Linked DNA regions of Homo sapiens. The protein of the gene in region 2 purifies or fractionates together with the protein of the main gene of each other region. This does not show direct contact. Each region holds a gene or a part of one and is shown on either strand. Other genes may lie near its edges. The genes, in order: ARHGEF5, CRYBB3, NLRP2, RGPD5, RPAP1, WDR81 and TNS4.

The links.
Region 1: the proteins of CRYBB3 (region 2) and ARHGEF5 purify together in Homo sapiens (affinity purification with mass spectrometry; one large-scale study listed by BioGRID and IntAct). This does not show direct contact.
Region 3: the proteins of CRYBB3 (region 2) and NLRP2 purify together in Homo sapiens (affinity purification with mass spectrometry; one large-scale study listed by BioGRID and IntAct). This does not show direct contact.
Region 4: the proteins of CRYBB3 (region 2) and RGPD5 purify together in Homo sapiens (affinity purification with mass spectrometry, with the first as the bait; one large-scale study listed by BioGRID). This does not show direct contact.
Region 5: the proteins of CRYBB3 (region 2) and RPAP1 purify together in Homo sapiens (affinity purification with mass spectrometry; one large-scale study listed by BioGRID and IntAct). This does not show direct contact.
Region 6: the proteins of CRYBB3 (region 2) and WDR81 purify together in Homo sapiens (co-immunoprecipitation; one large-scale study listed by IntAct). This does not show direct contact.
Region 7: the proteins of CRYBB3 (region 2) and TNS4 purify together in Homo sapiens (affinity purification with mass spectrometry; one large-scale study listed by BioGRID and IntAct). This does not show direct contact.

Annotation. Positions count from the first base shown.
Region 1 is NC_000007.14:144,372,081-144,376,300, forward strand, and holds part of ARHGEF5 (rho guanine nucleotide exchange factor 5), read left to right. Parts: intron 1-218; coding exon 219-348; intron 349-602; coding exon 603-677; intron 678-1,114; coding exon 1,115-1,204; intron 1,205-2,651; coding exon 2,652-2,809; intron 2,810-3,433; coding exon 3,434-3,595; intron 3,596-4,220. UniProt on the Homo sapiens protein: Guanine nucleotide exchange factor which activates Rho GTPases. Strongly activates RHOA. Also strongly activates RHOB, weakly activates RHOC and RHOG and shows no effect on RHOD, RHOV, RHOQ or RAC1.
Region 2 is NC_000022.11:25,202,589-25,205,809, forward strand, and holds part of CRYBB3 (beta-crystallin B3), read left to right. Parts: intron 1-85; coding exon 86-204; intron 205-1,174; coding exon 1,175-1,307; intron 1,308-2,631; coding exon 2,632-2,774; intron 2,775-3,221. UniProt on the Homo sapiens protein: Crystallins are the dominant structural components of the vertebrate eye lens.
Region 3 is NC_000019.10:54,986,382-54,990,601, forward strand, and holds part of NLRP2 (NACHT, LRR and PYD domains-containing protein 2), read left to right. Parts: intron 1-3,640; coding exon 3,641-3,811; exon of another isoform or gene 3,812-4,012; intron 4,013-4,120; coding exon 4,121-4,220. UniProt on the Homo sapiens protein: Suppresses TNF- and CD40-induced NFKB1 activity at the level of the IKK complex, by inhibiting NFKBIA degradation induced by TNF. When associated with PYCARD, activates CASP1, leading to the secretion of mature pro-inflammatory cytokine IL1B.
Region 4 is NC_000002.12:109,831,930-109,836,149, reverse strand, and holds part of RGPD5 (RANBP2-like and GRIP domain-containing protein 5/6), read right to left. Parts: intron 3,300-4,220; coding exon of another isoform or gene 3,187-3,299; exon of another isoform or gene 3,131-3,186; intron 1,154-3,130; coding exon 1,059-1,153; intron 332-1,058; coding exon 1-331.
Region 5 is NC_000015.10:41,520,066-41,524,285, reverse strand, and holds part of RPAP1 (RNA polymerase II-associated protein 1), read left to right. Parts: intron 1-31; coding exon 32-190; intron 191-313; coding exon 314-515; intron 516-931; coding exon 932-1,041; intron 1,042-1,325; coding exon 1,326-1,521; intron 1,522-2,035; coding exon 2,036-2,188; intron 2,189-2,405; coding exon 2,406-2,548; intron 2,549-3,138; coding exon 3,139-3,895; intron 3,896-4,220. UniProt on the Homo sapiens protein: Forms an interface between the RNA polymerase II enzyme and chaperone/scaffolding protein, suggesting that it is required to connect RNA polymerase II to regulators of protein complex formation.
Region 6 is NC_000017.11:1,722,819-1,727,503, forward strand, and holds the start of WDR81 (WD repeat-containing protein 81), read left to right. Parts: upstream 1-1,885; 5' UTR 1,886-2,141; coding exon 2,142-4,685. UniProt on the Homo sapiens protein: Functions as a negative regulator of the PI3 kinase/PI3K activity associated with endosomal membranes via BECN1, a core subunit of the PI3K complex.
Region 7 is NC_000017.11:40,498,689-40,503,416, reverse strand, and holds the start of TNS4 (tensin-4 precursor), read left to right. Parts: upstream 1-1,793; 5' UTR 1,794-1,883; intron 1,884-4,728. UniProt on the Homo sapiens protein: Promotes EGF-induced cell migration by displacing tensin TNS3 from the cytoplasmic tail of integrin ITGB1 which results in dissociation of TNS3 from focal adhesions, disassembly of actin stress fibers and initiation of cell migration.

The DNA.
Region 1 (4,220 bases), on a different chromosome or scaffold from region 2:
ACCAGTCCCCAGCCCAGAGGGCTATCCCAAGAGCACACTTTCCCCATTCCGCCCTCTGTATTGGTTACCCCAGCATCACATCTGAGCGCCCTGTACATCAGCTCCCACCGCTCTTTCCCAGCCCACAGATACTCCACTGACCTCCCTTCCCCGCACCTTCACTGCATCCCCCATTGCTCCCCATATCCCCCCTCCCCTAAGGCTCACTCTCCGTGCAGGAATAGCAACAGCAATTTCCGGGAGGTCTTGGAGAAGCTGGAGAGCGACCCCGTCTGCCAGCGCCTTTCCCTCAAGTCCTTTCTGATTCTGCCCTTCCAACGCATCACCCGCCTCAAACTGCTGCTCCAGGTAGGGCAGATGCTACCTTGATCCTCTCCCCTTAACTCAAAGGGATGCCCTCAGGAAGACCCACAACAAAGGACCAACCATTCTTCTGCCAGGTGTCCACATCCTGTCTCCCTGCTGCCCACTGCCTGCTTGCTTGGAAATATTTGCTGCTAAAATGTGGTCCCTGGGCTTCTCCATTCACCAGCCCCCAATCATTTCTTCCTGTTTCCCATTTCTTCCTCCCATCTCACTCCTGCCTACTGTCTGTTCAATAGAACATTCTGAAGAGAACACAGCCTGGCTCCTCGGAGGAGGCAGAGGCCACGAAGGCACACCACGCCCTGGAGCAGGTAGGCAGCCACCACCTCCACTCTGACCCTCTGTGTGTTCTTCTCAGAGAGGTCTTTCCCACCTAGGCCCATGACTCCAGGGAGCATGGGAGGTGGGACCCTGTTGGGAGAGCTCAGCCACCTCCCTGCATCCGCCAAACTTCCAAACATACACACCCCACGGCCACCTCTCCCACGCCGAGCACACTCCACATCAAGGGACTGTGCCCTCTCCACCATCACCCCCCCATTCAGTCTCACTTTTACTCAGTTCAGGAATGTTCTGCCAAGTCATACAAAGTTGCCTAGGACTTGTGCTTGATACTGCCTGCCCAATTCCAGCCTGGGAAAAATGACTGAGGCTGTCATAACCTATTTCCAGATTGCTTGCAAGGGACTCAAAGGTCAAAGCCTCTAACACAGTGCCCTTCCCCTTTCCTCACTCTCTGCACCCCTAGCTGATCCGGGACTGCAATAACAATGTCCAGAGTATGCGACGGACAGAGGAACTAATCTACCTGAGCCAGAAGATTGAGTTTGAGTGCAAAGTGAGTCGGTCCCATGCACCCCATCCCTGCCCATGAACTCCCTTAACATGTCCTGCAGATCACCCCCTAACCTGGAACCACCTTGCTCACATTATCCCCAGCCCCTCCCCTCATTTCTGCCCACCTTCTATTCTGTCCTATTTCTGGGAGGCCTACTTGGGTCTCCAAGACATACTGCTAAGTGAAATGATGAAGGTAAAGAATTGTGTGTATATTATATCACCTTTGGTATAAAAGTGGGAGGATACAAATCTATACAGGTGTCTGCTTGTGTGTGCATAAGGAAACTCTGGAAGGAGAACAAGAAAAAAAGGAACAGTGGTTACCTGAGGACAAGGGGGGTGCATTTGAGAAATGGGCAAATGAGAGAGAACTTTTCAGGATGAGCCTTTATAAAAGAATGTTTTGGTGCTTGATTCATTTATTACTTTATCAAATCTCTTTCTAGTCTAATCAAACCCACATAAGATTGGATCCAAATTTAGAGCCAGCATCCCTCATTGAAATACAAATCTAAAATAGACATTCCACATTCAAATTCCAACTTAGAACAGATACTATCTTTTTTTTTTTTTTGACAGAGTCTCACTCTGTCGCCCCAGGCTAGAGTGCAGTGGTGCGATCTTGGCTCACTGCAACCTCCACCTCCCAGGTTCAAGCGATTCTCATGCCTTGGCCTCCCGAGTAGCTGGGATTCCAGGTCTGCACCACCATGTCTGGCTAATTTTAGTATTTTTAGTAGAGATGGGGTTTCACCATGTTGGCCAAGCTGATCTCCAACTCGTAGCCTCAAGTGATCCACCCACCTCTGCCTTCCAAAGTGCTGGGATTATAGGCGTGAGCCACCACGCTCGTGCTTAGAACACATACTATCTTTACACTCCTGAAAAAGAAGGAAAATCCCTTATTCACATACTAAGCATAGACCACACCCTCATCTTTAACCAAATTCCAGCTCCAAGACGCCCCACCTAGTTCTTCTCACCCCCATGTTTGATTCCAGCTGCTCACATATCTCTGGTATAAAAAATGGAATTGATACCAGACCTGCCTCTAATATTTTATTTTAACCTCTAAGACACATATAGTGTTCACTGACTTGTTCCATCACATACCCTGATTGGACTCTTCCATCCCTCCTTCAGTTCAGGCTTCTAGGGCAGAGCTGTCCCACACACTCACTATCCTGAGTTGGACCATAGGCATCTTCTATTTACCTGAGCATACAACCATGGGAGCCACACACCAGTGGACAGTGGTAGTTAGAGGGTTCAGAGAGAAAGAGAATCTAAGTGATGGGTTATGAGCCAGAAGGCAGATGTGGAAGAGATGCTTGTTCAAGTGGAACTTGCATGGAAGTGGCATGGGGAGGAGGGTGGGACTGGGAGCAAACCTCATGCTTCTCCCATCTGTGACACTGCCTTCTCTCTCTTCCTCTGCCCTGTAGATATTCCCGCTCATTTCTCAGTCACGCTGGCTGGTGAAAAGTGGGGAGCTGACAGCCTTGGAGTTCAGTGCTTCCCCAGGGCTACGAAGGAAGCTGAACACGCGTCCAGTCCACCTGCACCTCTTCAATGACTGTCTGCTGCTGTCTCGGCCCCGAGAGTCAGTGACTGGAGTGGCAGGCCAGGGCACAAGAGGGGAAGGGGATGAGGAAAGAGGGGGGTCTGAAAGGGAGAGAGAAGGGTCATGTTCCTAGAAGAGCCCTTCTCAATGGCTTAACCCATAGAGCCCAGGTCATAGCCTAGAGAAGAGAAAAACAAGCCCAAAGCAAAAAGGGGATCCCATCAAACTGTATCATGAGACCACATAGCAGGACATGTAATATGGTATAGACACAGAGCAAAATGTAGCAAATTAGCTTATCACATTCTCACATGAGTCTATTTGTGGCTTCTTTGGACTGGCCTCAACCTGCTATTCTAGAGATACTTAGCTAATTCCAGAGCTTAAGTCTCTGGTCTTAAGGTTCTTGGGAAATGTATATAAATTCCATCTCTTCACCTCTTTAAAGTGGTAATGTATCCACTGCACTAGGTGTGTGGTTTGCCAGACTAGGACAAATCCCTGAGGACCCTGGAGCTACCATCTTGGGAGCAAGTTAGGACCATCTTATGGTTTTTGTGGGAATTTGCAGGCTGTAGATGTAGGGATTTCGAACCCAAGGTTATGAGGGTAGGTGAAGTATGGAAACTCTAGAATCAGGTTGAAAAGATTTGTATTTTGCAGGGGTAGCCGATTCCTGGTATTTGACCATGCTCCCTTCTCCTCCATTCGGGGGGAAAAGTGTGAAATGAAGCTACATGGACCTCACAAAAACCTGTTCCGACTCTTTCTGCGGCAGAACACTCAGGGCGCCCAGGCCGAGTTCCTCTTCCGCACGGAGACTCAGTGAGATGGGGCTGGGCAGAGGAGCTGGGGGTGGGGGAAGATGGGCAGCCGAGAAAAGAAGTGAGACCAAGGCAGAAAATGTGTCCAGAAGACAGCCACAGCCTCATTTAGCCCATTCTGGACTGGGGACCACCATAGAGAAATTCAGACTCCTAAAACTAATGGATAACTTGCAGGAGATTGGGGTGGGAGAGGGTACAAAGTCACCACCGAGGCTTAGCATCTATTTTATACTCTTTACTCAAGAGGGACAAGGTCTGTGTAGTATCAGAAAGGAGAAGGACTGGTATGGAGTGAGCAAGGAATTGGAATACTGGTATCTGTGAGCACATGCCTCCATGCCTGAGGCAGAAACCCTTCTATGCCCCAGCTGGTGGGCACAGATGTGAATAAGACAAGTGCTGGGTGACTTTTACTTTCTGTGCTCCCATCTTCCAAACCAGTCCTCTATTGACCAGAAATCCATAGTGTTGAGAATGCTGATTTGCTCATGTTTTCAATAATAATAAAATAAAATACATTCACACAGACATACATTTTTGAGAGTATTAATAGTACCTATAAAATCTGGAACACAGTGCCTGCAATAATGAACATGTAAAAGCCTGTAGCTGTTATTGCTATT
Region 2 (3,221 bases):
ACCTCCCTCTAATGCCCAAAGGAGGGGCAGAGGCTGGAGCTGGGAGCCTAGCAGAGGTGGGATGTTTAGGACTCTGCTCTTCTAGGTGATCTTGTACGAACTAGAGAACTTCCAAGGCAAACGCTGCGAGCTCTCGGCCGAGTGCCCCAGCCTGACCGACAGCCTGCTGGAGAAGGTGGGCTCCATCCAAGTGGAGTCCGGGCCGTGAGTACCTAGACCCCCAGTCCCTCGCCACAGCCCTGAGCCTTCTGGGAGTGTGGAGGCCCCAGTCTGAGCTCTAGATCTGTTGTGGGGCTTTTGACAGCTCCCCTGCCTTCTCTGGCCTCGTTTTCCGCATCTGTAAAATGAGAGTTGAAGAATTCTCTAGAATCCTAGATGTCTGCAGAAAATCCCAGGATACCTGAGGTTGGAAGAACAGCAAGGTCAACCTAGCACCTAACTCAGTGACTGGAACATGGGATTTAATATTTATAATTTTAATAATAATTGTAACACCTAAAATTTAACATGCATTATGTCATTGAATCGTCATGACCCTGTGACAGAGGTATCATTCTTATTCCCACTTTATAGATGGGGAAACTGAGGCCAAAGTTGGTAAGTGTCCCATCCATGTCCACAAGGCAGGCAGGTCTCCCAGCTGGGCCCTGAATTCCCGCCTTTGGATTGCAAGTCCAGGCTCTGGCACTAACCATCTGGGTGATCTTCGGCAAGTTGCTTCACACACCAGGCCTCTGTTTTCTCATCTGTTGAATGGGGATAACAATGGTACGTACTTCAGAGAGAGTTTTTATGAAAATGAATGGAATGATGCAAATAAATACATATTAATAACAATACAATACAAAGAAGAGGAAAAGGAAGAGGAAGAAGTCACTGTCACCTATGGAATACTTACTGTGTACCGGGCATTGTGCTAAAGACTTTTCTGGGTACCTTGCACAGAGGCTAGATTCTCAATAACATACCCTAGGATGGTTTTCTGGCCCAGAGTCTCAGACAGTTCCCGGTATGTCCTAGCAGCTCCTTTAATTACAGGTCCAGGAATTAGCAGTAGGGTTGGAGGGAGGGTACAAGGTTCAAGGTCAGCAGCTCTTGGACACTTCTCTCACTAAACTTGAATCCTTCCTCAGCTGCAGCAAAGGTGACCCAGCCAAGCCTCTTCCTCCCTCAGGTGGCTGGCATTTGAGTCCAGGGCCTTCCGCGGGGAGCAGTTTGTTCTGGAGAAGGGGGATTATCCTCGCTGGGATGCCTGGTCCAACAGCCGTGATAGTGACAGCCTTCTGTCCCTCCGGCCTCTGAATATTGTGAGTGTGGTTCCTGCTCACTTCTGGGTGTTCCTGGAAGCAGGGTGCACTGAGAGCTGGTCAGGCAGCTCATTGCACAAGCTGGGCTGAGGGTTTGGCCCATATGGACCTGGCCTGGGAAGGGCCCTCATGTTTCTGATTTGAACAATTGTGTGGGACAAGAAGTGGGATATTGAAGGGACATTCGGTTGGGGATTGAGACACCAGGACTCACATCTTGAATTAAACCAGCATAGCACTGGGACTTTTCTTTGTAACCGTACTAAAACGATGAGCCACATGGCCCAGTCTCAAATCAGTATTGTTATCAAAGAAATGCAGTCCAGGAAATAACTTCAGAAAGTAGCCAAAATACTTTAAGTTCTCCACTTGTGTTTTTCTAGCACCTGAAAGGGACACAGTCCACAGTGACACTTTTTATTTATTTGTTTATTTATTTATTTTTCGAGACAGACTCCTGCTCTGTCACCCATGCTGGAGTGCAGTCTTTCTCTCTCTCTCTTTTTAAACATTTTTATTTATGTATTTTTATTTCATTTTGAGTTGCAGTCTCGCTCTGTCACCCAGGCTGGAGTGCAGTGGCATGATCTCTGCTCACTGCAACCTCTGCCTCCTGGGTTCAAGTGATTCTCCTGCCTCAGCCTCCTGAGTAGCTGGGACTGAAGGCACATGCCACCACGCTGGGCTAATTTTTGTATTTTTAGTAGAGGTGGCGTTTTGCCATGTTGGCAAAGCTGGTCTTGAACTTCTGGCCTCAAGTGATCTGCCTGCCTCGGCCTCCCAAAGTACTGGGATTACAGGCCTGAGCCACCACGCCCGGCCCACAGTGACACTTTAAACACCACCCTTCTCCCTCCCCTGCTTCACTCACACCCCGCAGCTGCTCCAGCCCTTTCTCTTTGTCACATAACTGAGTCCTCCTTAGAGGGCAGTGGAAGAGGGGAAACTGGGAAGATTAAACCGGCATCTGGTTAGGAAAGAGGGAAAGCTCATATGTTGATACTTTTGATCTCTGTCCACCCTCTCCTGGCCTCAGTTTCTCTATCATTTAAATGATGGGATTGAACAAGATCTGGAAATTCCTTTTCAGTTTTATAATCTACGGCTCTAGGTTCCTAAATCAACCAGCTTTGGAGGAATCTCCCCGTCCCTCCTACAGTGAATTTGGGGGTGGAGGCATCTCCTGAGGCCCTTCCCTCCTGCAGCAGGTTTGGGGGTGGGTGTTATTTTGTGGTGACCTGTTGATTCTTTCCGGCATCTGGAGCCTCCTTGACCTCTGTTCTGGATATGGGAGCAGCCGCTCACCCCACGATATTGCCCTCAGGATAGTCCACATCACAAGCTGCATCTGTTTGAGAACCCAGCTTTCAGTGGCCGCAAGATGGAGATAGTGGATGATGACGTGCCCAGCCTGTGGGCTCATGGCTTCCAGGACCGTGTGGCGAGTGTCCGTGCCATCAACGGGACGTAAGGGACCCAACCCTCACCCTTGCCCCATCTTCTGGTCAGCCATGCCTCTGGCTCCAAACAGAATCAGTGCCCATAGTTTCTTATTATTTTATTTATTTATTTATTTATTTTTGAGACGGAGTCTTGCTCTGTCGCCCAGGCTGGAGTGCAGTGGCGCGATCTCAGCTCACTGCAAGCTCCGCCTCCCGGGTTCATGCCATTCTCCTGCCTCAGCCTCCCGAGTAGCTGGGACTACAGGCGCCCACGACCACGCCCGGCTAAGTTTTTGTATTTTTAGTAGAGACGGGGTTTCACCGTGTTAGCCAGGATGGTCTCAATCTCCTGACCTCATGATCTGCCCGCCTCGGCCTCCCAAAGTGCTGGGATTACAGGTGTGAGCCACGGCGCCCGGCCATCGGTGCCTATAGTTTCTTGCATGATTCATGTTCCCTGCACTCCTGTACT
Region 3 (4,220 bases), on a different chromosome or scaffold from region 2:
TTTTGTGTAAATAAGAAAAAGTTCGTTATTCTGACTAGAAACAGTACTAAGGGCAGATGACCCAGGATGCAGCATGGGCTGAACTTGAGTTTCTACTTGCCTTGAACAGTAAACACCCTGGACAACCATACGTGAGGACCCTGAATCCAAAGAAACTCCCAGAATCTTTATCATCTTTTTTTTTTTTTTTATGAAGTCTTGCTCTGTTGCCCAGGCCAAAGTGCAATGGCACGATCTTGGCTCACTGCAACCTCTGTCTCCTGGGTTCAAGTAATTCTGCTGCCTCAGCCTCCCAAGTTGCTGGGATTACAGGCACCCGCCACCACGCCCGGCTAATTTTTGTGCATTTAGTGGAGCTGGTTTCGCCACATTGCCAGGCTGGTCTCGAACTCATGACCTCAGGTGACCTGCCCTCCTCAGGCTCCCAAAGTGCTGGGATTATAGGCATGAGCCACCATGCCCAGCCAGAGTCCTTATGTTTTGGTTTTGGTTTTGGTTTTTTCTTTTTCTTTTTTCTTTTTGAGATGGAGTCTCGCTCTGTCACCCAGGCTGGAGTGCGTTGGTATGATCTCAGGTCACTGCAGCCTCCACCTCCCAGGTTCAAGTGATTCTCCTGCCTCAGCCTCCTGAGTAGCTGGGATTACAGGTGCACACCACCACACCTGGTTAATTTTTGTATTATTAGTAGAGATGGAGTTTTACCACATTGGCCAGGCTGGTCTCGAACTCATGACCTCAGGTGATCTACCCCCCCACCCCCACCCCACCCCGCCGTCGGCCTCCCAAAGTGAGGCATGAGCCACCGTGCCCAGCCCAGAATCTTTATCTTCTATCAGAGATCATTCACTCATGGTTCATGCTTCTCCTGTATGATGATTCAGAATACCAGCTATTGACATTTTTCAAGCAAGAACCCTTCAGGAACATCAAGTTGCCCCTTTTCTGTTAGTCCTCTGGTTTGAGAGCTCTCCCCTTGGGAAGCTGTCCAGTGGCTGCCCAGGCGATGAGAACCTACATGCATCATGGGGTTCCATGAAGCCTCACTTGGCCACACTGGTGTAGTAGGTGGTCATTGGCCTCAAATTATTGCCCTGGGCCAGGCGCAGTGGCTCACGCCTGGGAGGCCGAGGTGGGTGGATCACTTGAGGTCAGGAGTTCAAGACCGGCCTGGTCAACATGGTGAAACTCTGTCTCTACTAATAATACAAAAATTAGCTGGGCATGTTGGCGCACGCCTGTAGTCCCAGCTACTCAGGAGGCTGAGGCAGGAGCATCATTTGAACCTGAGAGGCGGAGGTTGCAGTGAGCTGAGATCACACCACCGCACTCCAGTCTGGGCAACAGTGTGAGACTGTCTCAAAAAAAAAAAAAAAAATCTTGGCTGGGTGCGGTAGCTCATGCCTGTAATCCCAGCACTTTGGGAGGCCAAGGCAGGTGGATCACAAGGTCAGGAGTTCAAGACCAGCCTGGCCAACATGGTGAAACCCCACGTCTACTAAAAATACAAAAACATTAGCTGGGCATGGTGGCGCGTGCCTGTAATCCCAGCTACTCATGGAGGCTGATGCAAGAGAATTGCTTGAACCTAGGAGGCAGAGGTAGCAGTGAGCCAAGATCACGCCATTGCACTCCAGCCTGGGCAACAGAGCAAAACTCCATCTCGAGGACAGAAAAAAAATTGATTGCTCTGGCTCTACTGATACAATCTTAGGCTGCTTAATGGGATCTTAGTTGAATAGGATGCTGTACATCTTACAGGTATTGGAAGGTTGAATGAAACCAAGCCCATGCATTCAATAGTGGCTGCTATCATTACTAACCGTTGCAATTACCCTCTTTTCTTTTTGCCTGAGAATAATGGGATGCAGGGTGAGGGGGAATATTGGGTGAATTAAAGATTTGGGTCACTAATTTCTTTCTTTTTTTCTCAAGATATAGTCTTGCTCTGTCTCCTAGGCTGGAGTGCAGTGCCACAATCTTGGTTCACTGCAACCTCTGCCTCCCGGGTTCAAGTGATTCTTCTCCGTCAACCTCCCAAGTAGCTGGGATTACAGGCACCCACCTGTATTTTTGTATTTCTAGTATTTTGTATTTCTAGTAGAGACAGGGTTACGCCATGCTGGTGGCCAGGGTGGTCTCAAACTCCTGACCTCGGGCAATCCACCACACCCAGCTAATTTTTGGTATATTTAGTAGAGCCGGGGTTTCACCGTGTTGGCTGGGCTGGTCTCGAACTCCTGACCTCAAGTGACATCCATCTTCCAAAATGCTGGGATTACAGCCATGTGCCACCACGCCCAGCTAATTCTTGTATTTTTAGGAGAAATGGGGTTTCATCATGTTGTTCCGGCTGGTCTTAAACTCCTGGCCTCATGATCCACCTGCCTTGGCCTGCCAAAGTCCTGGGATTACAGGCATGAGCCACTGTGCCCAGCCACTCATTTCTTATGAATTTATTCTAACACATTTTCCGGATGAACAGGGCACCTTGAAACATAGGTTAGTGGGCTGGGTATGGTGGCTCCTGCCTGTAATCCCAGTACTTTGGGAGGCCTAGGCTGGTGTATCGCTTGAAGTCAGGAGTTTTTTGTTTTGAGACGGAGTCTTGCTCTGTCGCCCAGGCTAGAGTGCAGTGGAGTGATCTCGGCTTACTGCAACCTCCGCCTCCTGGGTTCAAGTGATTCTCTTGCCTCAGCCTCCTGAGTAGCTGGGACTACAGGCACGTGTCGCCACGCCCATCTAACTTTTGTATGTTTAGTAGAGCCGGGGTTTCACCATGTTGGCCAGGATGGTCTCAAACTCCTGACCTCCTGATCTGCCCACCTCGGCCTCCCAAAGTGCTGGGATTACAGGCATGAGCCATTGCCCCGGCCAAAGTTAGGAGTTTGAGACCAGCCTGGCCAACATGGTAAAACCCCATCTCTACTAAAAAATACAAAAATTAGCCAGGCAAGATGGCATTTGCCTGTAATCCCAGCTACTCAGGAGGCTGAGGCGGGAGAATCTCTTGAATCTGGGAGGCAGAGGTTGCTGTGAGCTGAGATCGCGCCACTACACTCCAGCCAGGGCGACAGAGCATAAATAACTCCCTTTCAAAAAACCAAACAATGAAACATAGGTTAGCGGAGTCTGCATCCAACATTAGAGTCAGATTGACTAAGTTCTGTATTTCCAGCTGATTCCTGGGCGATGTTGGTGCCACTGGTCTGACCACCCTTTGACAACTGCTGCTCCAGATAATTCAAGTCGGGGTATAACACAACCAGTGAGATGTAAACCAAAGACGATTCCACGGTTAGATTCTCAAGAATGACTTGTTCTGCCGGGCGCGGTGGCTCACGCCTGTCATCCCAGCACTCTGGGAGGCCGAGGTGGGCAGATCACCTGAGATTGGGAGTTTGAGACCAGCCTGACCAACATGGAGAGACCCCCACCTCTACTGAAAATACAAAATTAGCTGGGCATGTTGGTGCATGGTGCATGCCTGCAGTCCCAGCTACTCGGGAGGCTGAGGCAGGAGAATCACTTGAACCCAGGAGGCGGAGGTTGCTGTGAGCCGAGATTGCGCCACCTGGGCAACAAGAGTGAGACTCAGTCTCAAAAAAAAAAAAAAAATGACGTGGTCCTATTTCTCCCACAGGTTGGTGTCTTGTTCCGCTACCACTCAGCAGTGGGCTGATCTCTCCTTGGCCCTTGAAGTCAACCAGTCCCTGACGTGCGTAAACCTCTCCGACAATGAGCTTCTGGATGAGGGTGCTAAGTTGCTGTACACAACTTTGAGACACCCCAAGTGCTTTCTGCAGAGGTTGTCGTAAGTCTCTCCTCTCTTACAGAGCAGCTGTGCTTTCGATCTGGGGCCACAGACGAGCAATGGTCATGCCTGACTTGGCTGTATGGAACCTCTCGCTGATGTGAACACCTGTTCCCATGTTTAGATCCAGGCCGATGGCCTGTGAATTTTGTTCTTCTCTCATTCCTATTCCTTCATAGGATCACCAGTGCATGATAGAAGGTGGGGAGTTCACAAGAAGGGGCTTTTGGATGCTGGCACTTGTGGAGCTAGCCGGGAAGGTTGAAGTTGGACCTGTCAACCGTGTTGCCATTTGTGATTCTTTTGTAGGTTGGAAAACTGTCACCTTACAGAAGCCAATTGCAAGGACCTTGCTGCTGTGTTGGTTGTCAGCCGGGAGCTGACACACCTGTGCTTGGCCAAGAACCCC
Region 4 (4,220 bases), on a different chromosome or scaffold from region 2:
TTTTACCGTATCGTGATGAGAATAATTTTTCTCCAGCACCTGAAAATCCCTTGAAATTGAGGTCTTTTTTGCCAAACTGAAATCCTTCTCCTGAAGTTGATTTTGCAACATCTGCAAATGTAAAAGTGCTACTTGTTTGGCCAAAAATCACACCACGGCCCTTCTTCCGGCCACTAATATCCTGAGCCTGGAAGCCAGTATCATTTTCAAGAGGCTTTTCCCTTTTCTTTTCTTGATTTCCTGGTTCCGAAATGCCAAATTTAAATCCATCAGCAGACACAGGGATGGAAAATCCTTCTTTGGTTGACTTAAATTCTGTATTAGAAGAACCCTGAAACATAAATGAAGGTGAATTTTCTTGATCCACATGCCCAAAATAGTCATGAAATAAATACCTTCTTCATTCCTAAACAATTTATCAAATGATGTTAACAATAATGATGATGATGATGATGATAACATTTATTGAGCATTCATTAATGTGCCAGCTGGGCACTGTTCTAAGCACTTTACATTATTATCTCATTTTAATATCCTCAAAAACCCTATGAATTAAGGTATTATTATTATCCTCATTTTACATATGAGGCAACTGATGCATTGAGAGGTTAAGAAACTTGCCTGTGGTCAAAATAAGCAGAAGAGCAAGGGTCTAAATGCACCCCAACACTCTGTCCTCAAAGCTGTCACATTCAACTACCACTGTAATATTGAGTCTTCAATCAATTGTTATATATATAGCTGTATCAGGCCTGAAAGTACTTACCACATAGTGGGTCAGCAAGGGCATTACAGTTCTATTTCTGTTAAAACAGAACGATGAAGGATCCACCACCACCACTCCCATTTTTAAAATATTCTAAATATTCACACTTACTAACACAAAAATAAGGTGACTAAGAAGGATAATTTCTGTATTTGGAGATAAATTTAAAATATCTACATTTTAAGGGACATAAAAGTTTTAATAGTGAACTGCTCTCTTGAATTTATTTGAAGGAACCCTAAACAATTTAAAAAGAAAATAATTATAAATGTATAAATTATTCCTTTGTTACCTTTGTGGGAGTAACATTAGCTGCTGGTCTGAGAAGATACTGGGAATTATATGCTGGTGACTGACTATAATATACTGAAGGGCCAGTAGTTGCAACTGAAAAAAAAAAAAGAAAAGAAAACACTGTTAAAGTCTATACTACAGTTAAGACTATCTAGGCAAGAGCTATAAATACAAAAGCAATAGAAGTTAAAGAAAGATTTAACTACATAAATTTTAAATTTCTGTACATCAAAATACACCAATCAAGATTATCAAATGACAAACTAGAAAAAAATTGCTAAATATGACATGAAGAATGAGAGAATAGCATCGCTGTGATCAACAAGAACTACCTCGCAAGCATTAAAAAAGGAATAAAGAAGATAGTAACTGTTGCCTTTTCTAAGAAAGATCAGTATGATGTGGAATTATGGACATTCAGTCACAGAAAGGACGTAAGGAACCAAGATGCCATCTGATAGTCAATGCATTTGAAGTGGGCCTAGAAAATCTGCAGAAAGACTAGGTTGTATTTTGTAAACTAAAGCTATTACTCAGAATGTTCAGCTCAAAAATCACCTGACAAATTCATGGAAAGGATGTCATAAATAACATAAAATGTGTTCCCTGGCTTAAAATAAAAAGCACATCAACACTCATACAGATGTACAAACTGTCTGCTCCCTCTGTTTGGTCTGTTTTACCAGGAAACAAAATGACTAGAAGGCACCCATGTTAATGACAAAACTACCAATAGTCATTTGCTTGAACTGTTTTATGATAGTTTTACCAGAAAACAACCAAAAGACCTTTTATGCCTGTACATGGAAGGAGAAACAGAAACTGTGCCAAGAGGTTCCAAACAATTGCCTCTGGAAAGCACTGAAAAATCAAGACCTAGAAAAGGCTAGCCAGAAGCCCAAGTTTGATTTCGGAAACCTTACAGAGGTGAGGATAGCTATTTTGAAATTACTATGGGGAGGAAGCAGGCACAGAACACAGAACAACCTGACAGAAATGGCCCAAGAATCTTAAAGTCTTGCAAGATGTCTGTCTGCATGAAAGCAAAAAGAAAAAATAAAATATTAAATAAAAAAAAATCTTAGTCTGAAGTTTAAGTAGGGACTTTAATTGACTACTGACTCTAAACTGTGCGGCTCTAATAAATCTACTAAAAGTAATCTAATTTTTTAAAGCACCATATGAATAGACAATTTAGGAAAGAAATGTTAATAGGCCTCAAGGAACATGTTTTTGAAGTGAGCCTTGAAAATCTGCAAAATGACGAGGTTGCATTGTGCAAATTGAAGCTATTATGAGAATGTTCAGGTCAAAAAAATTACCTGACAAATTCACGCACAGGATCTCACAAGGAACACAAATGTGTTCGTTGGCTTTAAAAAAATCACATTAACATTCATGTTGATATACAAAAACTCTTCTCCATCTGTTTTGTGTGAGTTTTACCAAGAAACCAAACAACTGGAAGGTACGTTGAAGATGGCAAAACTACCAACTGCCATTTGCATGAATTGTTGAGCATGACTAGTATTAAAAAAACTTAAAAATTGATATCACTTTTGTTCCTACAAATTGGCAAAGGATTTTATAAACTAGTAAGTCAGCATTAGCAAAAGTGCGAAAATGGCACTATCAGATACTAGCGGTAAGAGCATAAACTGAATATTTTGAATACCCTACAAAACTAGGACAGTGTCCTAGAATTTGTAATGGCATAAACCAGAAACAACATAAATAAAGGAACAGAATTTACAGTACTTCCATGTGATGGGATACCATGAACTCATTAATATTCAAAAAACATTTAAGTTTAAAAATGCTCAGAACTAAAGTAACATTTTAAAAACAGGCTAGCTCATCTACACACAACATAGTAACATGGTAACAATCTCATAAAAAATACTATATGTATAGAGAAAGAACCAGAAGGAAATGCTCTCAAATATAAGAAATGTTAATGAGGTGGTTAGCTTTTAGTTTTCTTCACCCTGTTCAGTACTTCTGAGTATCTCCTATGAGCTCATTAATCTTTAATTTTAATCATCTTATTTTAAAAAAACAAGGACCATCTTGATATATGTTTACTTTTATTAAGGAAAAAGAATCTATGAACACAGGAACAGAAATCAGGAGATCTTGGCTCTCGCCCTTTCAGTGCCACAAAGCTGTTTTGTGAACCTGTAAATAATCCATTTGGAGTCTCCATGTTTCTCAATTGTAAAATGACGATGTGCTGCTTCTACACATTTCACAGGGTCATTGCAAGAATAAAATGAGACAATGAGAATGTTGGATTTACATGCTTGTATAAGAACAGAAGACCTTTTATGCCTGTACACAGAAGAAATGGAAATCATGACCCACAAGGCACCAAATAACTGACTGCACACATCACTAAAAAAGCCCCAGGAAAGGCTAGCCGGTTTGTTTATCCTCTTACAAGGACCTATATGATGTGTAAGGTTTTAAGAAAACAAGGTTTGAACGTTAGACATTTCATATACTTATCTATGACTTACGACATTTAATAAGCTTGACTTCACAAAGATTTTCTGTTATTTTGCTTGTGTTGAGAAGATACTATCACAAAAGGCTAGTGGGGTTGCCTTAACTATAGGAACCATCACACAAATGTGCTCATCTAAACTAGATTTTTTTCTAAATCTTTCCTGGGCTAAAAAGAGAAAAAAAAAAAGGGCACTACTACTACCATTTCAGAAGTCTGTCGTACGTAAAAGGAACAATTTTGTTATTTCTGGCTGCCTGGGAGCAATGTATTATACTGGCAAGTGCTTTGGAGTTACACCACTGGAGTGTGAATCTCGGCTCTATCAATAACTAGCTGTATAATAATGAGTAAGTTACCTAACCTTTCTTTATCCATTTCCTTATTTATAAAAAAGGGATTAATAATGGTACCGGCCATTCTAAGTTACTGTAATTAAATCAAATTACATTCACACAGCACTTTTGCACACAGCCAACCCACAGTAAACACTATTAGTAACCTTAGTTCATTAACTGTTTACTGTATACTCTAATAAATGTCTGATACACACCCACGCCCACCTGCACATACACAAATGCTCATAGTAATTATGTAAGGCAAGTATTATCTCCACATTTCAGACAGGTTAACTTACACAGCTATTATAGTAAG
Region 5 (4,220 bases), on a different chromosome or scaffold from region 2:
ACAGTGAAAATCAGTCCCTGTTCTTCCCTAGGGAGCTCTACCCAGTGCTGATGCGGGCCTTGCAGGTGGTGCCGCGGGAGCTCAGCACCCACCCACCTCAACCCCTGTCCATGCAGCGGATAGCCTCACTGCTCACTCTCCTCACCCAGCTAACCCTGGCAGCCGGCAGTACCCCTGCTGAAACCATCAGGTAGTTTATAGCCAGGACCCACAGGACAGGTGGAGGGCTCCTCCACAGGGCTGGGGTGGCTGGAGTGTAAAGGGGCGTGAGGCAGCCAGATCCTCACTGTGGCACCCTTTGGCACTTTTGTAGTGATTCTGCTGAGGCCAGCCTCTCGGCCACCCCTTCCTTAGTCACTTGGACACAGGTGTCTGGGCTCCAGCCTCTTGTTGAGCCGTGTCTAAGGCAGACCTTGAAGTTGCTGTCCAGACCTGAGATGTGGAGAGCCGTGGGCCCAGTGCCCGTTGCCTGCCTGTTGTTCCTGGGAGCCTACTACCAGGCCTGGAGCCAGCAAGTGAGTGCCTCCTGCCGGCTGTCCACCAGGCCCCCGCACCCTGCCTTCAGCTACATTCCACCCGTTGCTCCCTCTCTGTGTCCATCTCTCCACTCCTACTTCCCCATTTACTATCTTCCCTTTTAATTCCTACCCTTCCTCCTCTTTCTACCTCCATATCCCCGTGGAGCTTCCCAGGAGCCATGTTGGTGGGGACCAGAGAGCCCACGCAGCAGCTCAGCCTTCCTGTAGCCTGTGTGCTCCCTCTTTATGCCCCCTACACATCGGGGCCTTCTCTCCCTTCAGAAGGCTCAGCCTGCAGAAGCCTCCAAATGTGCTCTTTTGGGCTGTTGGGATGGTGGCATTGGCCTGGGTACACAGGGTCTAGGAGAATGAATGGCTGGGCCATCAGCTCAGTGAATTCCTTGGTCCACCAGCCAAGCTCATGCCCGGAGGATTGGCTCCAGGACATGCAGCGCCTGTCAGAGGAGCTGCTGCTGCCACTGCTGAGTCAGCCCACACTGGGCAGCCTGTGGGATTCCCTTAGGTATGTACTGTGTTTGGTAGCTGGGGGAAGCAGGGGAGGAGGCAATTTCTTTCCTTGTGGGATTCCTGGGTCCAGCTCCCAGGTCCATCCCAGGGTGCAGGCCCTCGGCCCGAGGGAAACCCGAGTCCCTAGCAGGCAGCAGTGGGGTGGGCTCTGAGGAGTGTGAGCAGCACTGACCTCCACAGCCAGGCCCCCCGTTAGTCTTAGGTACAGACCCAGAAGCTCTTTCCAGCTTGGCACACGCCAGGCCAGAGTCCCCCTCAGACTCTCCACTTCACCTACAGGCACTGCTCCCTTCTCTGCAACCCGCTGTCCTGTGTGCCAGCCCTTGAAGCTCCCCCCAGCCTCGTGTCACTGGGCTGCTCGGGAGGCTGCCCCCGTCTCAGTCTGGCTGGCTCAGCCTCACCCTTCCCATTCCTCACTGCCCTCCTCTCTCTTCTTAATACCCTGGCCCAGATCCACAAGGGGCTGTGTGGCCAGGTAAGTGTGGGGTGCCTGATTAGGGGCCAGGCAAGGGGCCAAGATGGCAGGAATCAGAAAGAAAGTGGGAGGGTGGGATGGGCGCGGTGGCTCACGCCTGTAATCCCAGCAGTTTGGGAGGCCGAGGTGGGCAGATCACCTGAGGTCGGGAGTTCGAGACCAGCCTGGCCAACATGGAGAAACCCCATCTCTACTAAAAATACAAAATTAGCCAGGCATGATGGCACATGCCTGTAATCCCAGCTACTCGGGAGGCTGAGGCAGGAGAATCACTTGAACCCGGGAGGCGGAGGCTGCGGTGAGCTGAGATCACACCATTGCACTGCAGCCTGGGCAACAAGAGCGAAACTCCATCTCAAAAAAAACCAAAAAGAAAGTGGGAGGGTGTCCCATGGGGAAGGGAGGCCTTCTGCTGGCACTCATTTCCCTGAGTCTGGAGAGGGGCAGCCACCTGGGGAGCCCTAGAAGGCATGAGAGTCAATTTCTAGATCTGAACAAAATTGCTTTTCCTCAGCTGGCTGCCATATTGGCTGCCCCGGGACTCCAGAATTACTTCCTCCAGTGTGTGGCTCCTGGGGCTGCCCCACACCTCACACCTTTCTCTGCATGGGCCCTGCGCCATGAGTACCACCTGCAGTACCTGGCACTCGCTCTGGCCCAGAAAGCGGTAGGTCCCCCTGTCTGACAGGTTCTCCTGTCATCCCATTATCTCCTTCCTGTTTCTGTGGAACCCAGCCTGCTTCTGCCAGGCCATGCAGCTCCCACTTTCCTCCAGACATGCCCTGGACCTCTGCCCTTCAGCCTCACTTTTATCCTCTTCCTCACTTCTCTCTGCCACGTCCCCTTCTCCTGTACTAGGTAGTTCCCTGCTTTTCTGTCTGCAGGCAGCGCTGCAGCCACTGCCAGCCACCCATGCTGCCCTCTATCATGGTATGGCCTTGGCCCTGCTGAGCCGGCTGCTGCCCGGAAGTGAGTACCTCACCCATGAGCTGCTGCTGAGCTGTGTATTCCGGCTGGAGTTCCTCCCGTAAGTGCTTGGTTGGTGGCATCAACTCAGCCCTTTTGGACGCTGCTGCAGTTGTTAACAGAGCAGCCCTGAATTTGGAGCCAGGAGACCTAAATTCTCTTTCTTCCACCGACGACACTTAACTCTTCCGAGCTTCCATTACCTCATTAGTGAAGTGAGGATCAGGCTAACCACACCCAAGAATGATTGTGAGACTTCAGTGTGACTGCATGGCTAAAAAAATGGTATCTAAATCAGTTACACACATGTAATAGCCATCCGCTACTGAGTGTTTACTCTGTGTTTGATACTCCCTTATGTATTTATCTACATTTTAAGTATTTTACTTGGACCATGAGATAGATACTATTATTATCCTTATTTTACTCTGAGGAAACTGAGGCCCAGAGAAGTTATGTAAACTCATGCCTAGGCAGCTGGCTGTAGTGTGCATCCTCTTAACTGCTACACAGCACTGCGCGGGAAGTAGTTAAGGGAGCAGAGAGGCACAGGTCTGGACCTAGGAGCCTCCAGGAAGTTCCAAAGAGCTGGCACAGCCTCCAAGTGCTGTGGTTCCAGCCCTCATTTTTGGCTTTTGGGTCCCATTACAGGGAAAGAACATCAGGGGGTCCAGAGGCAGCCGACTTCTCTGACCAGCTGTCGTTAGGAAGCAGCAGGGTCCCTCGGTGTGGGCAAGGGACTCTGCTGGCTCAGGCCTGCCAGGACCTCCCCAGCATCCGCAACTGCTACCTGACTCATTGCTCGCCAGCCCGAGCCAGTCTGCTGGCCTCCCAGGCTCTGCACCGAGGGGAGCTACAGCGAGTCCCAACCCTGCTACTGCCCATGCCTACGGAGCCGCTGCTGCCCACCGACTGGCCCTTCCTGCCACTGATTCGCCTCTACCACCGGGCTTCAGACACCCCCTCGGGACTCTCTCCCACAGACACCATGGGCACAGCCATGCGGGTCCTGCAGTGGGTGCTAGTTTTGGAGAGCTGGCGCCCCCAGGCTCTCTGGGCTGTGCCCCCTGCTGCCCGCCTGGCACGGCTCATGTGTGTGTTCCTGGTGGACAGTGAGCTGTTCCGGGAGTCCCCAGTACAGCATCTGGTGGCAGCCCTCCTCGCCCAGCTCTGTCAGCCTCAAGTCTTGCCAAACCTCAACCTGGACTGCCGACTCCCTGGCCTGACGTCTTTCCCTGACCTCTATGCCAACTTCCTGGATCATTTTGAGGCTGTCTCTTTTGGGGACCACCTCTTTGGGGCCCTGGTCCTCCTGCCCCTGCAGCGTCGGTTCAGTGTCACCTTGCGCCTTGCCCTCTTTGGGGAACACGTGGGAGCCTTGCGAGCTCTGAGCCTGCCTCTGACCCAGGTACTTTCTCAGCCCAGCAGGACCTGCAAGGGTACCCTGCACTGGGCCTCGGGGGCAGTCCTGAGCCTTGAGGAGCTTTGGAAGACCTCAGCTTCCTCATCTTACCTCTTGGGGGCTTTGAGGGGATTAAGAGAATCAATGAAAAGGGCTTAACATGGGCTGGGTGTGGTGGCTCACGCCTGTAATTCCATCACTCTGGGAAGCTGAGGTGGGTGGATCACTTAAGGTCAGGAGTTTGAGACCAGCCTGGGCAACATAGTGAAACCCCATTTCTACTAAAAATACAAAACTTAGCTGGGCGTGGTTGCGGGTGCCTGTAGTCCCA
Region 6 (4,685 bases), on a different chromosome or scaffold from region 2:
AGTAGCTGGGATTACAGGCACCCGCTGCCACACCCGGCTAATTTTTTTGTGTTTTTAGTAGAGATGGAGTTTCCCCAAGTTGGCCGGGCTGGTCTTGAACTCCTGACCTCATGATCCGCCCACCTTGGCCTCCCAAAGTGCTGGGATTACAGGTGTGAACCACCGTGACCGGCCAAGGCCTAGTTTTCCTAAGTGTCTTTATGGGACCCTCACACCTGTACACCAAACTCCTTCAAGAGGCAAACTCTCTCCTAAGAGGGAGACAAAAGAAACAGGGCCAGTGGTTTCACTGTAGACAATGGTCTATCTGTCCTGCAGATGAGTCAGAACTAAGACCCCTTGAGGAATCATGTTGCTTTGGTGCCGGCTGTCTGGTTTCTATTCCATATCCTGTGCCGCACCCTTCCCCCAGCCACAGTGACATCTGGAGGCTCTGACCACAGCTGGCAGGCTCTGTGGTACCGCAGAGGCCAATCTTCAACAGGAAGTCTTGGGGGAACATTTCTTCCCCCAAAACACCAGGCCTCTGGGCCTGGGCCACTTCTCTCCCTCAGACAGCCCAGGGTTTCGTTTTATTTTTATTTTATTTTATTTATTTATTTTTATTTATTTATTTGGTTTTATTTTTATTTATTTATTTTTATTTATTTATTTATTTATTTATTTATTTATTTATTTATTCTTTTTGACGGAGTCTCGCTCTGTTGCCCAGGTTGGAGTACAGTGGCGCCATCTCGGCTCACTGCAAGCTCTGCCTCCTGGGTTCATGCCATTCTCCTGCCTCAGCTTCCCAAGTAGCTGGGACTACAGGCGCCCCCCACCACGGCCAGGTAATTTTTTGTGTTTTTAGTAGAGACGGGGTTTCACCGTGTTAGCCAGGATGGTCTCGATCTCCTGACCTCGTGATCCAGCTGCCTCAGCCTCCCAAAGTGCTGGGATTACAGGCGTGAGCCACTGCACCCGGCCAGTTTTGTTTTTTAAAAAGCCGTGAGAGGGCTGTCAGGAGGCAGTGCTCCTGGGCAGAAAGAAGGCTGGCACCAGTTTCTAAGTCTCCATTCCGCCAGGCGGACAAGCCTCTCTGGCGGTTGTTGGTTATCACTTGTAAAATATAAACAGTAATAACTGTCCTCCCTACCTCACAGAGTGTGTTGCGAGGGCCAAATGGAATGTGACTGTTGAAGTACTTAGGAAAGTTAAAAAGCTCCTTCCTATGGAAGGTGGCATGGAGGCGCCGGGGGGATTCCATGTCAAAAGTCCCAGTTCTGGCCGGGCGCGGTGGCTCACGCCTGTCATCCCAGCACCTTGGGAGGCCGAGACGGGTGGATCACGAGGCCAGGAGTTCGAGATCAGCCTGGCCAACAAGGCGAAACCCCATCTCTACTAAAAAATACAAAAATTAGCCGGGCGTGGTGGCGCGCTCCTGACGTCCCAGCTACTCGGGAGGCCGAGGCAAGAGAATCGCTTGAACCCGGGAGGCAGAGGTTGCGGTGAGCCGAGATCGCGCCACTGCACTCCAGCCTGGGCGACAGAGCAAGACTCCGTCTCAAAAATAGACACAACAGAAGTCCCAGTTCTGCCCCTGGTTGTGCGGTCCGCACTTAACTAAGAGGCTGGCATCTCTGGGAACAGCCTCCGGGACCCGCGCGCTGGTGCGTGCTGGAGGGAGTAGGGAGGGGTGGGGCGGTAGGCATCGCCCTCCGCCGGGCCCGGCTGGAGCTGGCTGGAGACCCTTTCAGCCCCGGGAGGAAGCGGAGCCCAGACCGAGCCAGAGCGGAGCAGCGGGAGGGAGGGCGGGGAGGCCGCCGGGCAGGAAGCGGGGTCCCGCCCGGGCCTCTGGAGCCACGTGCGCTTGTTTCCGTGCTGGGGCGATCACGTGACCCGCGTCAGCTGACCCGTCACGGTGGAGCCCGGTGCTCGCGCCCGGCAGCCTCTGCCCCGCCGCGCCCGGAGCGCAGGACCCGCGGAGGGGTAAGCGCGCCCCCCGTCCGCCTCTTCGCCGCCGCCGGCTTCCTGCGGCCGCCTCCGCCCCAGCCCCTGTCCCGCGCCCATCCCAGCCCCGCCGGCCTGGCACCCCGGAAGCCGTCGCCAGCAGGGCCGTGGCTGGGCTCAGCCCCGCGCTGCCCCCGGGCGGCCTGGAGGAGATGGCCCAGGGCAGCGGGGGGCGGGAAGGCGCTCTCAGAACCCCGGCCGGGGGCTGGCATTCCCCGCCAAGCCCAGACATGCAGGAGCTGCTCCGGAGCGTGGAGAGGGACCTGAGCATCGATCCCAGGCAGCTGGCTCCGGCCCCGGGGGGCACCCACGTGGTGGCCCTAGTGCCTGCGCGCTGGCTGGCCAGCCTCCGCGATCGCCGGCTGCCCCTGGGACCCTGTCCCCGCGCAGAGGGCCTGGGAGAAGCGGAAGTCAGGACTCTCCTGCAGCGCTCTGTGCAAAGGCTGCCTGCCGGCTGGACGCGCGTGGAGGTGCATGGGCTGCGGAAGCGGAGACTGTCCTACCCTCTGGGCGGGGGCCTGCCCTTTGAGGACGGGTCCTGCGGCCCTGAGACCCTCACTCGCTTCATGCAGGAGGTTGCCGCCCAGAATTATCGCAACCTGTGGCGCCATGCATACCACACTTACGGCCAGCCGTACAGTCACAGCCCTGCCCCCTCAGCTGTCCCTGCCTTGGACTCAGTACGGCAGGCTCTGCAGAGGGTCTATGGTTGCTCCTTCCTGCCAGTGGGTGAAACTACCCAATGCCCTTCATATGCCAGAGAAGGCCCCTGCCCCCCTCGGGGCAGCCCTGCTTGCCCTAGTCTTTTACGGGCTGAGGCCTTGCTGGAGTCGCCGGAGATGCTGTATGTGGTACACCCTTACGTACAGTTCTCCCTACATGACGTGGTCACCTTCAGCCCTGCCAAGCTGACCAACAGCCAGGCCAAGGTGCTGTTCATTCTCTTCCGCGTGCTGAGGGCTATGGACGCCTGTCACCGCCAGGGGCTGGCGTGTGGGGCCCTGTCTTTGTATCACATCGCAGTGGATGAGAAGCTTTGCAGCGAGCTGCGACTGGACCTGAGTGCTTATGAGAGGCCCGAGGAGGACGAGAATGAGGAGGCCCCTGTGGCAAGGGATGAGGCGGGCATTGTGTCTCAAGAGGAGCAGGGAGGGCAACCTGGGCAACCCACTGGCCAGGAGGAACTTCGGAGCCTCGTGCTAGATTGGGTCCACGGCCGCATCAGCAACTTCCACTACCTCATGCAGCTGAATCGGTTGGCAGGTCGGCGGCAGGGGGACCCCAACTACCACCCCGTGCTGCCCTGGGTGGTGGACTTCACTACGCCCCATGGGCGCTTCCGAGACCTGCGCAAGTCCAAGTTCCGCCTCAACAAGGGGGATAAGCAACTGGACTTCACGTATGAGATGACACGGCAGGCATTCGTAGCAGGCGGGGCGGGCGGCGGGGAACCCCCTCATGTTCCCCACCACATCTCAGACGTGCTCTCCGACATCACGTACTATGTGTACAAGGCTCGGCGCACGCCTCGGTCGGTGCTCTGCGGACACGTCCGCGCGCAGTGGGAGCCCCATGAGTATCCGGCCAGCATGGAGCGGATGCAGAACTGGACCCCGGATGAGTGCATTCCGGAGTTCTACACCGATCCCTCTATCTTCCGCTCCATCCACCCCGACATGCCTGACCTGGATGTGCCAGCCTGGTGCAGCTCCAGCCAGGAGTTCGTAGCTGCCCACCGAGCCCTGCTGGAGAGCCGCGAGGTATCCCGGGACCTGCACCATTGGATCGACCTCACGTTTGGCTATAAACTCCAGGGTAAGGAGGCTGTCAAGGAAAAGAATGTGTGTCTGCACCTGGTGGACGCCCACACTCACCTGGCCAGCTACGGGGTGGTGCAGCTCTTCGATCAGCCACACCCCCAGCGCCTGGCTGGGGCTCCTGCCCTTGCCCCCGAGCCTCCCCTCATCCCCAAGCTGTTGGTCCAGACCATCCAGGAGACCACAGGCCGGGAGGACTTCACGGAAAACCCGGGACAGCTTCCAAATGGAGTGGGCCGGCCAGTTTTAGAGGCCACTCCCTGTGAGGCTAGCTGGACCAGAGACAGGCCGGTGGCAGGAGAAGACGACTTGGAACAGGCCACAGAAGCTCTGGATTCCATTTCCCTTGCTGGGAAAGCAGGTGACCAGCTGGGCTCCTCCAGTCAAGCGTCCCCTGGACTTCTCTCTTTCTCAGTGGCCTCAGCCTCCCGTCCAGGCCGCAGGAATAAAGCTGCTGGGGCAGACCCTGGGGAGGGTGAGGAGGGGAGGATTCTTCTTCCCGAGGGCTTCAATCCCATGCAGGCCCTGGAGGAGCTGGAGAAAACGGGCAACTTCTTGGCCAAAGGCCTAGGGGGCCTGTTGGAGGTGCCTGAGCAGCCCCGGGTCCAGCCGGCTGTGCCACTGCAGTGCCTACTCCACAGGGACATGCAGGCGCTGGGTGTCCTATTGGCAGAGATGGTGTTTGCCACCAGGGTGCGGACGCTGCAGCCCGATGCACCTTTGTGGGTACGCTTCCAGGCTGTCCGAGGGCTCTGCACGCGCCACCCCAAGGAGGTCCCTGTGTCTTTGCAGCCCGTGCTGGACACACTCCTGCAGATGAGTGGCCCCGAAGTCCCCATGGGAGCAGAGAGGGGCAAGCTGGACCAACTGTTTGAGTAC
Region 7 (4,728 bases), on a different chromosome or scaffold from region 2:
TCCCAGCTACTCCAAAGTCTGAAGTGGGAAGATCACTTGAGTCCGGGAGGTTGAGACCAGCCTGGGCAACATAGCAAGACCCCATCACAAAAAAAAAAAGAATTATATACCATGACCAGGGGGTTCATCCCAGGTATGCAAGGAGGGTTCAAAATTCAAAAGTAAATTAATGTAATCTATCACATCCATAGGCTAAAGAAAAAATGTCATATCTATAGATGTATAAAGAAATGCCACTCCATCCATCCCTTGATGATCACGGCAAAGGGCAGTGATGTGGTGTTGGGCAGGGTTTGTGAGGCAGCTGGGGCTGAAATCACTGTTCTGAGACCATCTTAAGCTAAAGGAAGCAGCTGGGTGTGAAACAAAAGAGCCAATCTGCCAAGAAAGACCATAACCCCCAGGTATGGGTCTGTAAGGCTGGAGGACCCCCTGGCCCTGAAGAACCACTGCAGAGGCTATCCATACCAGCCCCAGGGGAGATGGCCAGGGTTACCCCGGAGTTGCCACAGTCTCTGCCCAACACTTCGCCCTACTGTAACCTGCCCCTTCCACTCAAGAAACTCACGAGTCGCCCCTCCCACTCTCCCACAATCATGAGCCACAGCCTCATGGGGGAAGCCGCCATGTGCAGTGACATCCACTCCAGGGCAGGAGCACCACATTTTTCATCCAAAGACATAATTGCTCATCAAGCCATGTGCCAACAAGGCTGCATGGACACCTAGGGACACCTTTTATGTCACCATCAGGAAGGGGCACCTTATATAACTTTCCATAGCTTTGCTCACCGGCCTCCCATGCACTAGTTCACCATGCCTCAGTGAAACCCCAGGGCATCAAAAACTGTAAGGCCAGAAGCCCTTCCACTGGGCATAATGGGGGCATGGGGCAACCCACCCCTGAGATTAGCCTACTGGGATCACCATGAGTCCCTGGGCTGGAGACTTCGCCAGCTCCCTCACTTCAGACCGCTCCCAGACCAGGCTCTGCCATCAGCACCCTCCCCTCACCATGTCTGAACACCTCCTTACAACATTCTAGGACCCCTGCCCCTCTAGAACAGGGAGAGAGTTGGAACCATGGAGAAGGAGCTACCAGACCAGACTTCTGGGCTTCCTGATCTCACCCTCCAATGTCCTCCCCTCAGGGAACTTCCACCCTGGGGCACAGACCAGACGAGGGACAGAGATAGCCCATGAGTGAAGGAACAGCTATAAGCCCCTTCTCAAAGCCCTCCAGACACTTCAGCCTCCTTTCCTTGAGTTAGAGGCCCCATCCCAAGCTAGAGTCATTACTGTAAAAGGAGAGAAAGAAGAAAAGACAAGCTCGTGCCTAGCCTTACTTCCAGTGGGCCCTTACCCTGTGCCTGTCCCAGTGTGACCCAGCACAAAGGGGGACTGCAGAGGGTCTCCTGCCCACTGGCATCCTGCTTTGTCAAGGCCCTCACTCTCTGCCAGCTCTGCCAACCCATGGCCTCTGCCCCAGCCAGCACCTGAGGAGTGCCCACTGCACACCTTGATTCTAGCTATGCCCTGTCCAAGCAAGGACTCCCTGGCCATGTGGTGCCACGAGAAGCCCAAGCAGGAACTTGGGAGCCCCTCACACACACCCAGACCCAAAACCCACCACCCAGTGCTTCCCTTCCTGCTGCCTGTGCCAGCCCCACCTGAGCTCACTGGATCCAGCAGGGGTGGGGCCTACTGCTGTCAGGGCCACGTGCAGGGCCCGCCCGGAGGGGAGGAGAGAAGGCGGGCAAGCTGCTTTTAAGGCAGGTCTGGAGGTGAACTGGCGCCTCTCCTGACTCTTCACCTGGACTCTGAGTCGTCTTGGTCCCAGGAGCCAGTAGTGAAGGCAACAGTCTGCCCACCTGTGGACACCAGGTAGGTGCCTTTATTCTTTAAGAAGAGAGGAACACGGAGCACCTTTGCTGGCCCTGATTCATTTAAACATTTTTTTTTTTTTTTTTGAGATGGAGTCTTGCTCTGTCACCCAAGCTGGAGTGCAGTGGCGCGATCTCGGCTCACTGCCAACGTCTGCCTCCAGGGTTCAAGCGATTCTCCTGCCTCAGCCTCCCAAGTAACAGGGATTACAGATGTTTGCCACCATGCCCGGCTAATTTTCTTATGTTTAGTAGAGACGCGGTTTCACCATGTTGGCCAGGCTGGTCTCAAACTCCTGACCTCAGGTGATCCTCCCACCTTAGCCTCCCAAAGTGCTGGAATTACAGGCGTGAGCCCAGCCTCATTTAACCTTTTGTCTTCAGCTTCTCCATTTCTCAGGGCTCAGAGTGAAGGTGGGGAGAAATGGGGTGGAGGATGTGGATGAGACAGAGATGGTCTCAGGATCACAGACCGCGGAGTTCAGCAGTTCAAGGGAACTAAACCTGTGCCCCTCGGCAAATAGATGAGAGAGCTGAGGGCCACAGAGAAGAGGCTTGCCTGAGGTCATGGAAAGGGACTGGACACAGAACCCAGGCCTCTCGCCTCCCAGCGCTCTGGGAGCCCTCTGGGCACTTCAGAGGTAGACAGGACTGGGAGATGGGGCGGCTGGCCTTCACTGGTCCTATGGGTCCCTGCCTGAGGTCCACGTCCTGCGTCACCGGGTCTGGGTGGGAGGGATGGGAAGATCGGGAGCCAGTTTTCAAAAATAGGGGGTGCAGTGGAGATTGGGCTAATGAGGCAAAGTGCTTTGGGGGAGACTCAGGCTTTACCCTTGCCCCACCCTCTCCCTTCACTGACCTGGGCTCATTGGGAGAGAGTAAGTCAGGAGAAGAGGTTGGCAATGACACGGAAGAGGGGATTTGCCAAGGCACCAGGACTCCCCAGAGTCCTTGGGAACAAAGAAAGAGATCTGAGTCAGAATCAGAAGTGGGAGCGGGTAGGGGGCACCTACAAATAGAGCAGAGGTGGCTGGAGCCCTCCTTGCCCCCGCCCCGTGCCTCCCAACCACACAGAGCCCCGGGCCCAGGGACTCTCCCCACCACTTACAGCAAGAAAGAGCAAGTTAGAGGAGTGTGCGGGGCCGCGAAGGGGGCAGCATTCAGGAATACAGGAGTAAGATGGAGCCCTGCCTTGGTACATCCAAGGGCGACGCAGAGCCTTAAAAGTGAGGGGAGGCTGAAGAGGAGCGTAGGGGCTGCCTGCCCTTTGCTCAGCTCCAGGTCTGTCCCTCTTGGTTCCAGAATCCCAGAAGGGGCAGCGGTGGACAGGGTTCTTAAATATGTGAAGCAGCAGCAGAGGCTAAAAGTGTGGGACCGTGGAGCAAGACCACCTGGGTTTAAACCCCAATTCACAGTTGGGGTTGTATGACCTTGGGCAAATTCCTCAACCTCTCCAGCCCTGCAGCAATAGCACCCTCCTCAGAGAGCTGTTGAGAAAATGCAAGGTGTTCAGTGTCTGTTATTATCACATCCCCATCACACAGATGGGACAACTGAGGTCTGCCCAGAGAGGAAAGGACGCTTGCCCAGCGTGGCACAAAAGCTGTGTCCAAATTAGTAAGCAGGTATACTGGGTCCTGGTTGCGAGGGGACACCCAGCCCTCCTTGAGCTCTGCAAAGTCAGCAGCCCCAGCCTCCTCTGCAGGACACAGCCAGAAAACCCTGCAGGGAGCGCCCAGATCCTGTCCCAACAAACCCAGTCCACTTGGAGCCTGTGTGGAAAAAGCCGTGGTTCCGGCTCTGTGTCCTCAGCTGTCCCGGGAGGGCGGGAGCGCAGAGGCCGGCTCCCTTCCACTTCCATTTATAGAAAGCTTCCCGTGCCCGGGATGCCCCGCCCCCTGCAGGACCTGGCCAAGGAAAAGTCTGGCATCAGACCTACCGGAGCCACGGGCGTTGGGGGAGGCAGGAGAGGGGAAGGGGCCCTGGCTTTTCTCATGAAACCTGTGCGACCTTCAGCCAATCATGCCCCCTCTCTAGATCCCAGGTGTCCCTCTGCACTTGAATTCCATGTGGCATTGTAGCAGGACGAGCCGCAGACAAAACTCCTCAGACACCAAGTTAAAGAAGGAAGGGGTTTATTCGGCCGGGGGCATCAGCAAGACTCCTGTCTCAAGAGCCGAGCTCCCCGAGTGAGCATTTCCTGTCCCTTTTAAGGGCTCACAACTCTAAGGGGGTGCGTGTGAGAGGGTCGTGATCAATTGAGCAAGCAGGGGGTACGTGACTGGGGGCTGCACGCACCGGTAATTACGTGGGAACAAAACAGGAAAGGGATTTTCACAGTGCATTTCTATACAATGTCTGTAATCTATAGATAACATAACCGATTAGGTCAGGGGTCGATCTTTAACTACCAGGCCCAGGGTGTGGCGCTGGGCTGTCTGCTTGTGGATTTCATTTCTGCCTTTTAGTTTTTACTTTTTCTTTCTTTGGAGGCAGAAATTGGGCATAAGACAATATGAGGGGTGGTCTCCTCCCTTAGCATAAGGAATTAAGATTCCAAAATCCCACACCTGGGTTTGAATCCCAGCTCCACCATCTTTCTGGATGTGAAGCGTGTTTCTTGACCTCTCCGAGTCTCAGCATCTTCATCTGTAAAATGGACTGACAACTCAAAATAAATAAATAAGGCCAGGCACAGCGGCTCACACCTGTAATCCTAGCACTTTGGGAGGCCGAGGAAGGAGGAGCACTTGAGCCCAGGAGTTCAAGACCAGCCTGGGCAACAAAGTGAGACCCTCTTTCTACAAAAAATTCTCTGGGTATAGGGCACAAGCCTGTAGTCCCAG